Homo sapiens: one gene and its partner. The protein of the gene in region 2 purifies or fractionates together with the protein of the main gene of each other region. This does not show direct contact. Each region holds a gene or a part of one and is shown on either strand. Other genes may lie near its edges.

Region 1 (7,022 bases), 440 kb from region 2:
GAGGCTGCTGTGGGCACAGGAGCCCTGGCCAGCCCCATCTGCATCCCACCTGCTGCCGGGCGAGAGGGCTCCCTCAGAGGCCACCGATGCAGAGAGGCACCTGGTTCTCATCATAGCCCCCACAGGCCAGGACCCCCAACCAGCACTGCCCCACGGGACGCACAGAAAGGGGCGGGCAGGACTCGGGAACACCAGGAGAGGGAAGTAGGCTTGGCAGCCAGGCCTGGGGCACCTGGGCTCCCTGTCTGCGCCTCTGTGCAGGGAGCACTGAGCCAGGCAGCCTACCCGGCCTGTCCCCACGTGCTTGTGCCCAGCCTTGACTCGGGAGGGATCGCCACTGCTCGGACGAGGGGATGGTGGAGAGGAGGGTCGGCAGACTGGGTGGCATGGAGGCTGACCAGTGCTTGGAGAGGCTCGGCCTCTGGATGGACCCCAAAAAAGAAGCCTCCCAGAGTCCACGTCGCCTCCATCTCCTACCACTGGCAAGCGTGTTCTCTGCTCTGGTCCCAGGCACCGTTTCAGCGAGGGACCCAGGGTGAATGGAGCCACCCGGTCACCAAGCTGGGGCTGGAAAGGGAAAGTGGGTCACACCGTCCCCCCAGCCAGAGCAGGGCCCGGGAAGGGCCTTTGAGGGAGGCACAGGCTGAGGGGCCTCTCCCCACCAGCACTGTCCCAGGATGTCTCAGGCTGCCCCTGCCTGGCTCCCTCGGCTGACAGGGAGAAGTGGGGGTGCCCGCCCTGCCCTGACACAGCCTGAGGGCCTGGAGCCGGCCCCTCCCTAGCTGCCGCCCAGGACACTGGGGCCCCAAATCCAGCCGCCTCTCTGCTGCCAACCCCTTGCCCCACTCAGTGTTGCCAGGAAGAGCTTCCGAAAGGAGGCCCACGTCAACCCCCACGGGGCAGCAACTCTGTAGGGGCTGCATGCACACGTGGCCCAGCGCCTGGCCGCCCCCTCCAACGAGAACAGCACCACCCTCCGGGGAACGAAGCCAAGAGAGGAGCCCTTGCAGCTCAAGACGCCCGGGAGGGAGGCGGCACCACAGCGCCTGGGAGGGAGGCGGCACCACCGTGCCCGGGAGGAAGGCGGCACCACAGTGCCTCGGCAGGGAGATGGCACCACAGAGCCCGGGAGGGAGGCAGCATCATGGTGTCTGGGAGGGAGGTGGCACCACGGTGCCCGGGAGAGAGAAGGCACCACGGTGCCTGGGCAGGGAGAGACGGGGCATCCACCCACAGAGCGGGAGTGGGGGCTGCAGGAGCCATCCTGCCTTCTGCAAGACCATTTGTCAACGAGGAACATTTCAGAGGGTCCAGGTGGGGTAGGGCCTGGTGGGTGGAAGGAAGGGGGCCTGTTGGTCCCAGAGAGGCCCCGGCAGTGGGCGACACGGCAGTGCAGGACGGGGCTGTCCTGGGTGGAAAGGAAGGACGACAGAACTGGCTAGGGGCGGGCGCCCAGCAGGCACTCAGGCCAGAAGTGCCAGTCACGCCCTGCCAGGTGAGTGGCTTGGGGAGTGGGGAACCAGGCAGCAAGGGTGGCCTGTGTCCTGGCAGACGGTCCCCAGAGGCAGCCTGAGAGCTCCAACAAACGGAGGGTGTTAGGAGCCAGGCTTGCCCTGCCAAAGCCAATGGAAGGAAGCCCAAACAGCAGAGCCTTTGAAGAGATAAGTGAGGTGACCGTGACATCAAAGGTGGGCCTAGCCCAGGGTGACCTTCCTCATGACCTGAGGACGCGGACCGCACACAGAAGTGACTGTGTGAGGACACCAGGGCAGGGCCAGCCCTGATGCCCAGGGCCAGGACGCAGGTTTCAGGCAGGGGCGGGGGGCTTTGTTCCCCACAGTGGTGCCCCCACACTGCTCACAATTCCCTGTCCTCACTCCTGGCCGCCTCCTCCCAGCCCTCCCAGAAAACCTGCACTCTCCTGGGCCAGGGCCACAGAGGGCTGCCGGGCTACCGGAGCCCCCACACCCACGCACGCTGTCCCTCTCGGAAGCCGGGGGCCGGCCCCTGGACATCCCCCAGGCAGCAGGCAGCCGGAGTGGGGCTCTGCCAGAGACGTGAAAGCTGGTGCTTCCGCGCCCGCCGCCTGCTTGCCTGCCAGGGAGGCAGGCTTCCTTCCCTCAGCCCCGCCAGCTCTCTGACGGCAGGCAGGCAGGCAGGCACGTCACCGGGGACACCACCCCGAGAGGCCCCGAGGCTAGAGCCGAGCTGATGGAGGGCAGGAGACGGTGGCTGGTAGGGAAGCCAAGCGTCCCCAGAAACAGGGCAGCAGCACCCCAGTGCTCTCAGGGGCCTCCCAGCGGGAGGGTGGGCTGCAGGCCTGGGCACTGGTCCTCCTCCATCCCAAGGCATCTTCCAAATTCAATGTTTATCAACTGGCTGGCCAGCAAGGGAGGGGATGGAGACGGAGGAAGGAGGCCCGGAGTCCGCCCGGCAGCTCGGGGGCTGAGAGGGGACTGTCTCACCCCTCCCCTGCCTCCGCTGCAGGGAATCCCGCTCAGTCCTGCTCCTGATCACCCCTGGCAGCTGCCAGCCTTCTTGCCCCAGCTCAGTAAGCGGCTGCAGCCCCAGGCAGTGAGCAAGCTTCTCACCTCCAACCCAGGCCTCTGTAGAGGCCTGTGGCCACTTAAAAAAAAACCCGCCTCTGTGGCTAATTAAAATATCTGAAGAGGCTTTGAAGAGGAAACCATTAGGCCAGAGGGCTTCGGAAGGCCCCAGGCAGCTCTCCCACAGGCCAAGGACAGGACATTCATTGCTTCTGGCTCTGGAGGGCGGCCCAGCAGGGCTGGGAACCCGGCACCCTCACCCTGGCCCCACCCTCAGGAGCCCTCAGGGAGGTGGCAGGGACCCACAGAAGCAGCGGACAGCTATGGGCACCAGGGCGTTCCTAGCAGGGACCGGGGGGCCAGCGGGAGAGGCCGGGCAGGGGGAAGGGGCAGCTGAAGCCCAAGGCGGCCGCCTCCAGCTGAGGGCCTGGTCCCTCTGGGGCTCCCTGAGCCCTGCTCCGAGGCCTGCCGGGCCCTTCCTCACCCAGACCCCTGGGCAGGGACTGCTGCCGCCTTGGCCCCAGCACAGCAGCCCAGGGGGGCCGAGACCTCCAAGCGGCCTCAGTTCAGGCAGGCCGCCTAGCAGGTCCTTTCCCACCCGGGGCCAGGCAGGAAGCAGAGGAGGCCGGAAAGCCGTGTCAGAAGCAACTTCAGAGGCGCACGGCCCCCTCGGAACCCACCGGCTCTCAAAGGCTTTATTATCCTGCCCCAGCGCCTGCCAGGCCCCTCCTTCCTGCCCGAGGCCTCACGCTCTCGTCCTGCCCTCCCTGGAGGGCCCCGCCCCGCAGCACCCCAGGGAGGCCCTCAGGTACCTGAAAGAGGGTCTGCGTGTGGTCGTCCAGGACTGTTTTTGGAGGGGTGATGACTGAGGAGAGAAGGCACCTACGTGTTAGGAAGCACCGTGGACCTCGCCCATCCATGCGCCCGAAGGAAGACAGGCCTGCAGATGGGGGTGACGCCTCAAGTGGGGCAGAAGAGCCCCTCACGAGCACGCCCTGTGCCCACACTCCTGCTGCAGAAACTCCAGCTGAGGGCTCGGAAGGGCCGGTGGGGGGCAGGCCCACCTGCAGGGGACACCACCCGTGCAGCCCGGCTCCCCTTGCAGTGGGCAGCCTAACCCTTTGCCACCTAGACACCCTCCAAGGGAGGCCAGCCACTCCCTGTCCACCCACCCTTCCCACAGCCCTCGGGCAGGAGTGGCCTGAGCCCCAGGGGTGGGGACCAGGCTGGGGTGCAGCAGGGCTCCAGAGGGGAGCAGGGCGCTGAGAGAGAAGGCAGGAAGCCTGGCTCCCACCGCCTGGCTCGGGGAGAAGGGCCCTCCTAGGTCTCCACACAGACACCATGGGCTGCAGGAGGCACCTGGGCGGGAGGCCACAGATGCTGCTCCTGTGGAGAAGCTGCCACGAGCCCCAGCTGGGACGGGCGGTGTGCCCACAGCACCAAGGCCCCGAGCACTGGAGGCAGGAGTGGGCTCAGGAGAAAAAACGTACACAGGTAAAATGACAGCTCGGGGTTCCCCAGGTGGCTCCTCACGAAGTCTCGCAAGTCCCCCACTGCAGAGGAGAAAAAGAACATACAGACAGCTCTTCCACCACGCCAGCCCCGGGCTGCCCCAGCACCTGGGCCACTGCTCCCACCCTCCTGGGCCTTTCCCCGAGGGGTGGGAATTCAGCCCTGTTCCTCCCACAGCACTCCAGGTGCTCGGCGTGGCTGGGCCACCGTGCGGGCCACACTTGGGACCCCCGCCCTGCTGGAGAGCACTCCCACTGCCACCCGCTGCCCCCCAGCCCCACCCCCGCCCCAGCCTAAGCGCTTCCCTTTCCCTGGGGGAGGCCCCTGTGACCTTGGGCTGCTGCCGCCCGGCCGTCTGGGTACAGGTCACAAGCCCCTGAATGTCACAGCACCACTGCCCTCCTCCCGGGGTAGGGTGCCTTCCTCTGGGTGCCCCTCTGCCCCACCCATGCCCAGTAGGTGGGCGACGTGAGCACTCAGGACCACGGGCTCCCTGAGCTGGGGCCGGGCACCTGGAGCAAGCGCCCAGCCTGCCTGACACTCTGCGAACTGGGATGCCTCTGCACCCCCAAGGGGACATCAGCACCCGCACCCACCCAGTGCCCTGGAGCCCGCAGGCCAGGTGGCTGCAGTCCTGTGGCCTGGAAGGAAGGAGCCGGGAGAGGCCCCATGGGCCCCTGCCCCCCATCCCCGGACACCCCACAGCGCTGCCCACCTGTCTCGCTGGGGCGGAAGAAGCCCTGTAGGACGTAGCGGTCGGGGAACAGGACCCTCAGAGCCACCTAGGCCAGACAAGTGGAAGGGTTGGAGGGACGGCCGGAGCTGCACCAGGGACCAGGGCGTGGCCTCCCCACTCGGCCCATGCTGGGCCATGGACACCAGGGCTGAGGCAGGCAGAAGCAGCCACCCCCAATCAGGGCCTGGGCTTTGACTCCCCCGTGGCAGGCTGGGCATGGAGACAGCCAAGTGCCGTGTGTGTGCACAGCGGCCTGCGTTCTAAAACCACACTGACCTGGGTTCAAATGTGCTGGTTTTTTTTTTTTTTTTTTTTTTTTGAGATGGAGTCTCACTCTGTCGCCCAGGCTGGAGTGCAGTGGCATGATCTCGGCTCACTGTAAGCTCCACCTCCCGGGTTCACGCCTTTCTCCTGCCTCAGCCTCCCGAGCAGCTGGGACTACAGGCGTGCGCCACCTCTCCTGACTAATTTTTTGTATTTTTAGTAGAGATGGGGTTTCACCGTGTCAGCCAGGATGGTCTCGATCTCCTGACCTCATGATCCGCCCACCTTGGCCTCCCAAAGTGCTGGGATTACAGGCGTGAGCCACCACGCCCGGCTCAAATGTGCTGTTTAAAGTTTCATTCAGCCAGGTGTGGTGGCTCAAGCCTGTAATCCCAGAACTTTGGGAGGCCGAGGCGGGCAGATCACCTGAGGTCAGGAGTTCGAGACCAGCCGGGCCAACATGGTAAAACTCCATCTCTAGTAAAAAAAAAAAAAACAACAAAAATTAGCCGAGCTAGTGGTAGCGGGTACCTGAAATCCCAGCTACTTGGGAGGCTGAGGCAGGAGAACCACTTGAACCCGGGAGGCGGAGCTTGCAGTGAGCTGAGATGGCACCACTGACTCCAGCCTGGGCGACAGAGAGAGACTCCGTCTCAAAAAAAAAAAAAGGTTTCATTCTAAATCATGAGCAGGGGAGGATCAACTGGCCACTAAGGGCATGCGCGCCACCACGGGGGGGCCCTGCTCAGAGCTGTGCCTCAGTCGCCCCCACGTCCCATCCACAGACCTCACAGGGGGCCCCCTCAGAGCTGTACCTCAGTCGCCCCCACGTCCCATCCACAGACCTCACAGGGGGCCCGCTCAGAGCTGTGCCTCAGTCGCCACCACGTCCTGTCCACAGACCTCACAGGGGGCCCGCTCAGAGCTGTGCCTCAGTCGCCCCATCCCGTCCACAGACCTCACGGGGGGCCCCCTCAGAGCTGTGCCTCAGTCGCCCCCACATCCTGTCTGCAGACCTTTGGGTAGCGCTCCAGCTTCTCCTTTATCTGCGCCTCCCTGAAGGCCTTGGTCACCAAGGGGGCTTCTTCCAGGCGCTTCCTGTGGTGAGGAGGGGAAGGAACAGGGCTTCTGGTCAGAATGGGGGCCCTGGCAACAGGCCCCGGGCTCCTCACCTGCACCCTCCAGGGTGGGAGTGGGCTGCTCTCCCCACACAAGGCAGGAAGGTCTGGACGCCCCTCCCTGGGCCCCAACCCTCTGAGGTCCTGTTAAGGGCAGCCTGTCAGGGACCTGGGCCGGGAGCCAGTGCTGGCACTGGGGACAGCGGGCAGCACAAGCACCCGATGGGGCAAACCCTGGCGCGAAGATGCCGGGAGGCACTGAGGGGGCACCCACCGCTCACTCTTGAGCTGGGCCAAGCGTCTTCTCACGTCGTCCACCGTCAGCTCAAAGAACTCATCAGGCAGCTCCGCTGGCCAGGCCTGCAGCCGCTCCTCCAGGTCGGGGTGGCACACCACCGGCTCCCGGTCCACGGGCTCCCGGTCCACGGGCTGGAGGCAGAGGGCGCGGCTGACGGCGGGTGTCACGGGCTGGGCCCTCCGCACCCCGGGCTGTCAGTGCCCCAGCCGAGGTGGTCACACAGACTTGGGAGCTGGGCCCACTCCCTCCCTGGCCCCGGCCAGCGCAGGGCCAAGGCCAGGTCCTGGGGGCAGGGCTGGGCACAGCAGCTGGGGGACCCCACCCCACTCAGAGCCTGTCCAGGGCTGGAGACCCCCCTCTCCCAGTCAGTGCACCAGACCTGATGCTGAGCCCCTGCTCCCCAGCAGGGCACATGGCCCCTGGAGTCTGGCTCAGGCCACGTCAGGGTCTCCATGGGGGGGAGGGGTGGCGACAGCCGCCAAATTAGAGCGTCGGCAAAAACCCCAGTCCAGCTGCCCCCGCTGCCCTCTTGGCCACAGCTCCATGGC
Region 2 (7,022 bases):
CACACACAAAGAGCAGGGCGGGCTGAAAAACTATTAGGTACTATGTGTAGTACCTGGGTGATGTGATCAATCATACCCCAACCTCAGCATCAGGCAATATACCCAGGTGACAAACCTGCACATGTACCCTGTGAATCTAAAATAAGTTAAAATTATTTTTAAAAAACAAACAAATAAAAAGCAACAACAAAGCCCCAAGAATTAGCTGGGTGTGGTGTTGCAAGCCTGTGGTCCCAGTTACTCAGCAGGCTGAAGCAGAAAGATCACTTGAGCCTGGAGTTTGAGGCTGCAGTGAGTTACGATTGTGCAACTGCACTCCAGCCTCGGCAATAGAGTGAGACCCTGTCTCTACAAAAATAAAAATAATAAACAAAGAATTGTGTGAAAAGAAAACCTCGGCTGGGCGTGGTGGCTCACACCTGTAATCCCAACACTCTGGGAGGCAGAGGCAAGCAGATCACAAGGTCAGGAGTTCGAGACCAGCCTGGCTAACATGGTGAAACCCTGGCTCTACTAAGAATACAAAAATTATCCAGGCATGGTGGCACATGCCTGTAGTCCCAGCTACTCAGGAGGCTGAGGCAGGAGAATCGTTTGAACCCAGGAGGTGGAGGTTGCAGTGAGGCAAGATCACGCCACCACACTCCAGCCTGGGTGACAAGAGCCAAACTCCGTCTCAAAAAAAAAAAAAAAAACAGGAAATGGTATAAAGGTGTTTGATGTGTCTTTTGAAGGCTGTGTTAACAGAAGGATTCTAGCATTTGTCCAGGGCCGTAGCTCCCGGGCACTCTGGTGCTCTCAGCTGCAGGGACTCAGGGCACTCGGGCTGCACGAGGCACCACGGTGCGTGAGGAGTCCCTGCAGCAATGCTGACAGAAGGTTCTCACGAGTGGGGAATCGTTCAGGACCTGGTGACTGAGGGTCCGGAAGACACGCAATGCCTGCGGTCCGTTCCGTAGTGTCCACCAGCAACAACATGGATGCTGCAGGCTTCTCCTCCTTACAGCTTTAAGCACTAAAGGGAAATTCTCAAGGAGACCAAAAGGTCCCACGCTTCCGGCGCTTCCATAAAGTTTCTGATTCTCTTAAGACAATGATGTTCAAAGTGCTCCTAGGATGCCTGGAGATTAGTATCTCTGATGTACAGGTTTATAAAATTTACAGGGCTGTGTACCTAAGACGTACGGCCTGGACAACATGTCTGCTCCATCACCGGAGCCTGCCACGTGCCTGGCAGGGAGGCCGAGTCTCTACTCGTTGCATTGCCGATGGCACCTGCCAGGATGCAGCTGGGTGCGGAATCCAGGGCACCACCGGCAGTGGGGAGCTGTGCAGAGTGGGCTGCTCTCCGGCCCCAGCCACGGGGTGCCGGGGCAGGGGGTGGGGGTACTCACTGCACAGCTGCTCGATGGTGGCCCACTGCTCAGACCTCTTCCATGTCTGGGCGAGCTCCTCATTTCTGGTCCGCACGGCCTCCAGCAGCAAGCTGATGCTGTCCTACAAGAAGCCAAAAGGAAGGTTCCTCTTCGCTGTGCCTAAGGTGAGCAGCTTCCTGCTAGAACAGGTTTCTTTCTCCCCAACATCAAGACGTATTTCTGAGGACATTTTAAAAATCTTACAGGCTATCACTATAAAATGCAAACTGCCACAACTTACATCTATAAACGCAAGTGCTAAATTGAACTAGAATTTAAATTCTTCCCAAATAGGCCCAAGCGGGCATCTGTGCCTCTGCCTTGTGCTGACGGTGCTCAACAGCCCGGAGGATAGGAGCTCATGCCTCTCGTCCTGGAGGCTGGGATGGAGGGCGGAAGTCTTGACTGTGAGACGTGTCCTCCTCCCTCACATTTCATCCCTCTGCCTCTTTCTCCTCTCGTGTCTGGAAAAATGCACTCTCTATCCTAGCCTTCCGAGTCAAACTGCAGGGGATTAATGCATTAAGGATGGGCGCAGTGGCTCACGCCTGTAATCCCAACACTTTCAGAGGCAGAGGCAGACAGATCACGAGGTCAGGAGTTTGAGACCAGCCTGGCAAACGTGGCGAAACCCCGTCTCTACTAAAAATACAACAATTAGACAGGCGTGGTTGCGGGCACCTGTAATCCCAGCTACTCGGGAGGCTGAGGCGGGAGAATCGCTTGAACCCAGAAGGCGGAGGTTGCAGTAAGCCAAGATTGCGCCAATGCACTCCGGTCTGGGCAACAGAGCGAGACTCCGTCTTAAAAAAAAATAATTCATATATGAGAAACGGATAAAGCCTTCAGGAGCTCTCAGTACCTCCAGAGAATGTCTTCCAACAGATGACTGCAAAAATAGTGCAGTATACTAGCAAGGTGGCTCTGGTGTAGAGGGAGCCTCACCTTTCACCACCTGTCCAGACAGATGGGCAGCAGCTGAACCTCGGAGCAGGAGGTGCAGTTCCCTGGGCTGACTAGGGAAGGCACAGGCAGGGAAGAGGCACAGGGTGCCTGATGTCAAATACCCGAGTGAGTGGTTTTGAGACAAAATACAGACACAAAATAAACTAGCAGGATACAAGAACAGCTATAGGCTTCCTGACAGAGAAAGGCCGGGGGAGGAGGAGCCTCTCTATTCTGTCTCCTTCAGGGAAAAGTTCTGAGTCAGTGGCGGAGCAGCTCAGAAAGAATTTGCTCCTTTCTCTTTGGCATTTCCTGTTGGCTTGAACAGTGAAGAAAAAGCCAAAGTCGGACCCCTACACACGGCAAGAACCTCCTGGGGGCTGCTGCCCACTGGCCCCCACTACCCAGAGCAGCCACTTCTGCAAAGCACTCGCCCTCTTCTCCCCCAACGGTGTCTCTTAAAAATGCCAACTGTGCAGCTGTGAGCTTGGGGTCTGGAAGCTGGCCAAGCCTTCTGGGCCAAGGCAATAAAACCAGAGTTGATTTAGGAGGAGGGGAGATATGAGTAAAAAGCAGAGGCTGTGACTCTGAAACTGTTAGAACAGGAATTTTTTAAACTGTCTAACTCTAATGCTGGAGGCAGAGCTAAATCACCTCTGCTTCCCATTCGATTGTAACAGATGAAACCGTACTTCCTCACAGAGGTGCAGACACTCAATGGAAATGCTAAAGGTGAAAAAATTAATCTTTCTATCAACAAGCTTCTTGTGAAAAGCTGCTGCCTACACTCTGCCCATAGGACAAATGAGGGGGACAACCTGTGACCCCGAGCTTTGACCCAGTTTCCCAATCATGCTCTGGTCTGGGAGGAAAGAAAGCAAGACACAGGCGTCTCTTTGCAGCCAAAGCCCACTTGCTCAAGTGGACACCACACTTGGACACGCACCTGCAGAGGCATAACTTCATTGGTGACCAGGAACAGCAAGAGGTGGAAATCTGAGATGGTATCCAAGAACACAGATGAGGTATTCTGAGACAAATAGGTGGCCAAGCTATGGAAGTCCTAGAGGAATGGGAATAAACATGAATGTTCCATACAGTTCCCCAGTGCCAGACCCCGAAACAGAGCTGTTTCCTACTAAGACGCAACTCAATACACTGAATGCTGAGACACCTCTCCCTCTGCCTCTGCAACCACGAACAGGGTCCAAGAAAGAGGAGCAGGCAGCTGCAAAGCAAGCTCTTGCTCTCTTCTCCCAAGAAGATGCTCTCAGCACACCTGACTACCCAGATGTGCAAGGAGACATGCTTATAAAGCTGACTCAGACTGGCCAGGTGTGGAGGCTAACACAGTAATTCCAGCACTTTTTAGGAGGCCGAGGCAGGCAGGTGGTCAGGAGTTCGAGACCAGTCTGGCCAACATGGCGAAACCCCGTCTCTACTAAAAATACAAAAAAAATTACCCAGGCTTGGTGGCGCGCACCTATAATCCCAGCTACTCAGGAGGCTGAAGCAGAAGAATCGCTTGAACCCAGGAGGTGGAGGTTGTAGTGAGCCAAGATCGCACCACTGCACTCCAGCCTGGGTGATAGAGTGAGACTCTGTCTTCCAAAAAAAAAAAAAAAAAAAAAAAAAGGCTGACTCAGACAGAGACACAAACATGGAAATGCGCCCTGGTCCCCCGGTGGAGAGTGGGCTGCGGGAGGGGCCTGGGGCCCCCTTCACGGCAGGGAGACAGGTCTGACTTTTCCTGTCGAGCTGTATTCTCCATCTAGGGCAGCAAGAGGGAGGAATGTGCAGGGCAGCCGTGATGCAGCACGGACATCTTCAGCAGAACCAAACACAGAGCTTCAAGAGTGCACCCCAATAACTGGCTTTGCACCTCTGTGAGCACCCCAAGTCCCCTGGGCGGATGGGCACTGAGGGGATCAAAGCATAGAAGAAGCTTTGTCAGCCACTGAAGAAAACCTCATTATAGACATTCTTTGACCACCTTCTGAAATGTCTGTTAGCAAGTTATGATTTAAGAACAACCATGTGTACACAGCCTGTCTACACAGTATGCAGGCGTGACAGCAAATCGGACCTGGCCTGATCTGCCAGTGAGAGCAGAGGCCAACACGGGAGCCACGCTAAGCAGCAGATCAACACTACACACGGGAAAGCCGAGGCCAGGCCGAGAGGGGCCACACAGCCCCAAGGTGCCTAAGAAGGGCAGCAGGTGACCAGGCAGGGGCCAGGCCAAACCAACAGTGACGAGGCTGCTGGCAGAAGACACAAAGCAACACATTTGGGAAAATTACGAGGTCCACTGAAGATGTGGCCAGTCAGGACGTCAGGGGATTAGCCTTTGTGGCCGTCCATCACCTAGCCATGGGAAGGGCGTCCACGTGACCAGCAGTGCCCCACAGTAGGCCCTAGCTGGCCTGTCACAAGAATGAATCGGGAGCATTTGAAAGCTTGATGTTTTCTGGAAAAACAATACTGACACTAGATAACAATCAGCAGTTACCTTAAATTATGTTTCTAAAGACAAAGAGCTCACCTGTGTCTCACCCAATACATCCCGGTTTTCAATAGGAAATGGATTTTGCGAAATAGAAAAAGTGTAAACTGGATCCTTGGGGAAAGTTGTTGTGATCTAATGAAGAAAAACACAAACCCATGATAAATGAGGCTGAAAATGGTGTGGCCGACTCCCAGCCAGCCCAGAGCATCTCCCAGAGCCCAAATTAACGACTCCTAGCAATTCTGAGAATGTTCTACAAGCTCTCCATCAAAGGGAACCGTTATCTATTAGTGTCATCTCTAAACGAACACTTGGAAACTCCGCCATCCTGGAGACAAACTACACCATATCCGGGCAGCCTCCGGCCTGTGCACCGGCCTCGACGTCGGACAAAAAGGGCACTGGGACTCCCCTCGTGGCACAGCTTCCCTTCAGAGTCACACAGGTTCTCTCCCTCTGCTATGGAGGAACGAAAGGCTGGTTTGGCCCCTTGGCCAGGTGACAGGAAAGGAACGGAAGGGCCAGGAGGCCGCCCCAGGAGCTGACTTTGCTCAAGAGAGATTCGTGTCATTGGATTCGGAGGGCAAATGAGCAATCAGCCAGCTTTCAAGACACAAAGCACCCTTCAGCAGCTCACTAAGCCCCTTCTGAATGCTGGGAGCCACTCCACGGAGCTGTGGGCTTTTCCAGGCAGGGGTGAATGTAAGGCCCTTGAGGAACACAGGGTTCAGCTCTTCTCTCTCCCTCAGAGCTGATACCCAAAGGCCAGCTAAGTCCTTCAGTCCTTCACTGGCTCAGACAGGCCTTAATGACAACAGAGGGCACTTTGCACCTAAGATATAATCAATAGATGCTACAGGGACAGTGGTAAATGTGCAAGAATCAATAGAAATACCACTTTTATTCTTCGTGACAGACACCCCTCCCCAAAGCAGCACCGAGTTGAGTTGATGCTGCTTTTCTCTGCAACACAACAGCAGCAGCAGAGGTCACACCTCTTCCAGATTTAGGGGAACTATTCTGGTTCCTTTGGGACTATTTCTAAAGAATGAGTGTGGTTCTGGTCTGTTTTCTGCATCAGCAAAGGCAGTGAGTTGTTGAGCTAGCTGGCCCAGGATTTGCTGTGCCAGCGCCAGCCGCTGTGGAAGGACAGCTGAGCCACCAGCAGCATCTCTGGCCTGAGCTGGCCCTTCATGGGCAAGCGGCGGGGTGGGTCATGAAGACTCGGGCCGCGGTGCCACGTGTCGGCTACATGGCCTCGTCAGTTAGGGATCCTGGGCCTCACTTTACTCTTCCTCAGGATGAAGATGATCGGAGTACTCGCCTCCTGGGTGCCCAGCACGGGGCTGGTACACATAGTGTTGGTACACACAGTGCTGGGTCCCAGCTGAAGACAGGGGAGGTGCTGACCTCCTGCAGAGACAAAAGCCTGGCCTGCTCAGGCGCGTCCCTTGGGAAGGCCTAGAAATGAAGAAGGCGGCACCCCCAGAACACGTGCTAGTGAGTGAGCTAGTGGGACTGACGGGGGCTCTTGCTGGCCTTGTAACTGGCCCTTGGAGGGGAACAGAACCAAAGTCCACACAGCCCATCCCAGATGTCCCAAGGAAGGGCATCAGCTCCCATCTTACACTGAAGCCATTTCCCTACCCTACCCATCGTCTATCAGCCAGATGATGCCCCCAGAACCCACAAAGAAACCCCAGTAACACTGGCTGGTGCCTTTTCCTGCCTGCCCAGCCATCCCATCCCAAGGTTTAAGAACCTTGGCTGAGGCCAGCGCCTGTGGCCCAGGGCTGGGCATGGAGCTTGACACACCTCTCTGGGCACCTGCTCTCAAGGACTCCCCATGCCTCACTTCCACAGGGTCAAGGAGCCTGGGCATCACAGAGCAGAATGCTCTCCCACAAACAAGTACTTCTGAAAAACTGCACTAAGGCAAAAACTTAACTTCCTTTATAAAAGAAGAGGAAAGAAGTGGGGAGGCTGCTTGGGGTAGAAGACCTGAGAAAGCTGGTTTTAAATCATGCCTGCTCCTCCTGGGTGCATGCTCCATCAATCTGTTTTCATCTTAATTACACCCTAGGTAGTCTAAAAACCAGATGCCTTCACGGCCTAGGTAATAAATATGTTCTCGGGAGCTGTCAGTTGGAATG

The links.
Region 1: the proteins of NPLOC4 (region 2) and ASPSCR1 purify together in Homo sapiens (affinity purification with mass spectrometry; 3 studies listed by BioGRID and IntAct, with this or other methods). This does not show direct contact.

What each region holds. Positions count from the first base shown.
Region 1 is NC_000017.11:82,008,620-82,015,641, reverse strand, and holds part of ASPSCR1 (tether containing UBX domain for GLUT4), read right to left. Parts: intron 6,606-7,022; coding exon 6,451-6,605; intron 6,157-6,450; coding exon 6,075-6,156; intron 4,841-6,074; coding exon 4,774-4,840; intron 4,100-4,773; coding exon 4,037-4,099; intron 3,487-4,036; coding exon of another isoform or gene 3,412-3,486; coding exon 3,359-3,411; intron 568-3,358; coding exon of another isoform or gene 286-567; intron 1-285. UniProt on the Homo sapiens protein: Tethering protein that sequesters GLUT4-containing vesicles in the cytoplasm in the absence of insulin. Modulates the amount of GLUT4 that is available at the cell surface. Enhances VCP methylation catalyzed by VCPKMT.
Region 2 is NC_000017.11:81,564,111-81,571,132, forward strand, and holds part of NPLOC4 (nuclear protein localization protein 4 homolog), read right to left. Parts: intron 5,002-7,022; coding exon 4,906-5,001; intron 3,424-4,905; coding exon 3,307-3,423; intron 2,493-3,306; exon of another isoform or gene 2,361-2,492; intron 1,498-2,360; coding exon 1,395-1,497; coding exon of another isoform or gene 1,210-1,394; exon of another isoform or gene 137-1,209; coding exon of another isoform or gene 90-136; exon of another isoform or gene 1-89. UniProt on the Homo sapiens protein: The ternary complex containing UFD1, VCP and NPLOC4 binds ubiquitinated proteins and is necessary for the export of misfolded proteins from the ER to the cytoplasm, where they are degraded by the proteasome.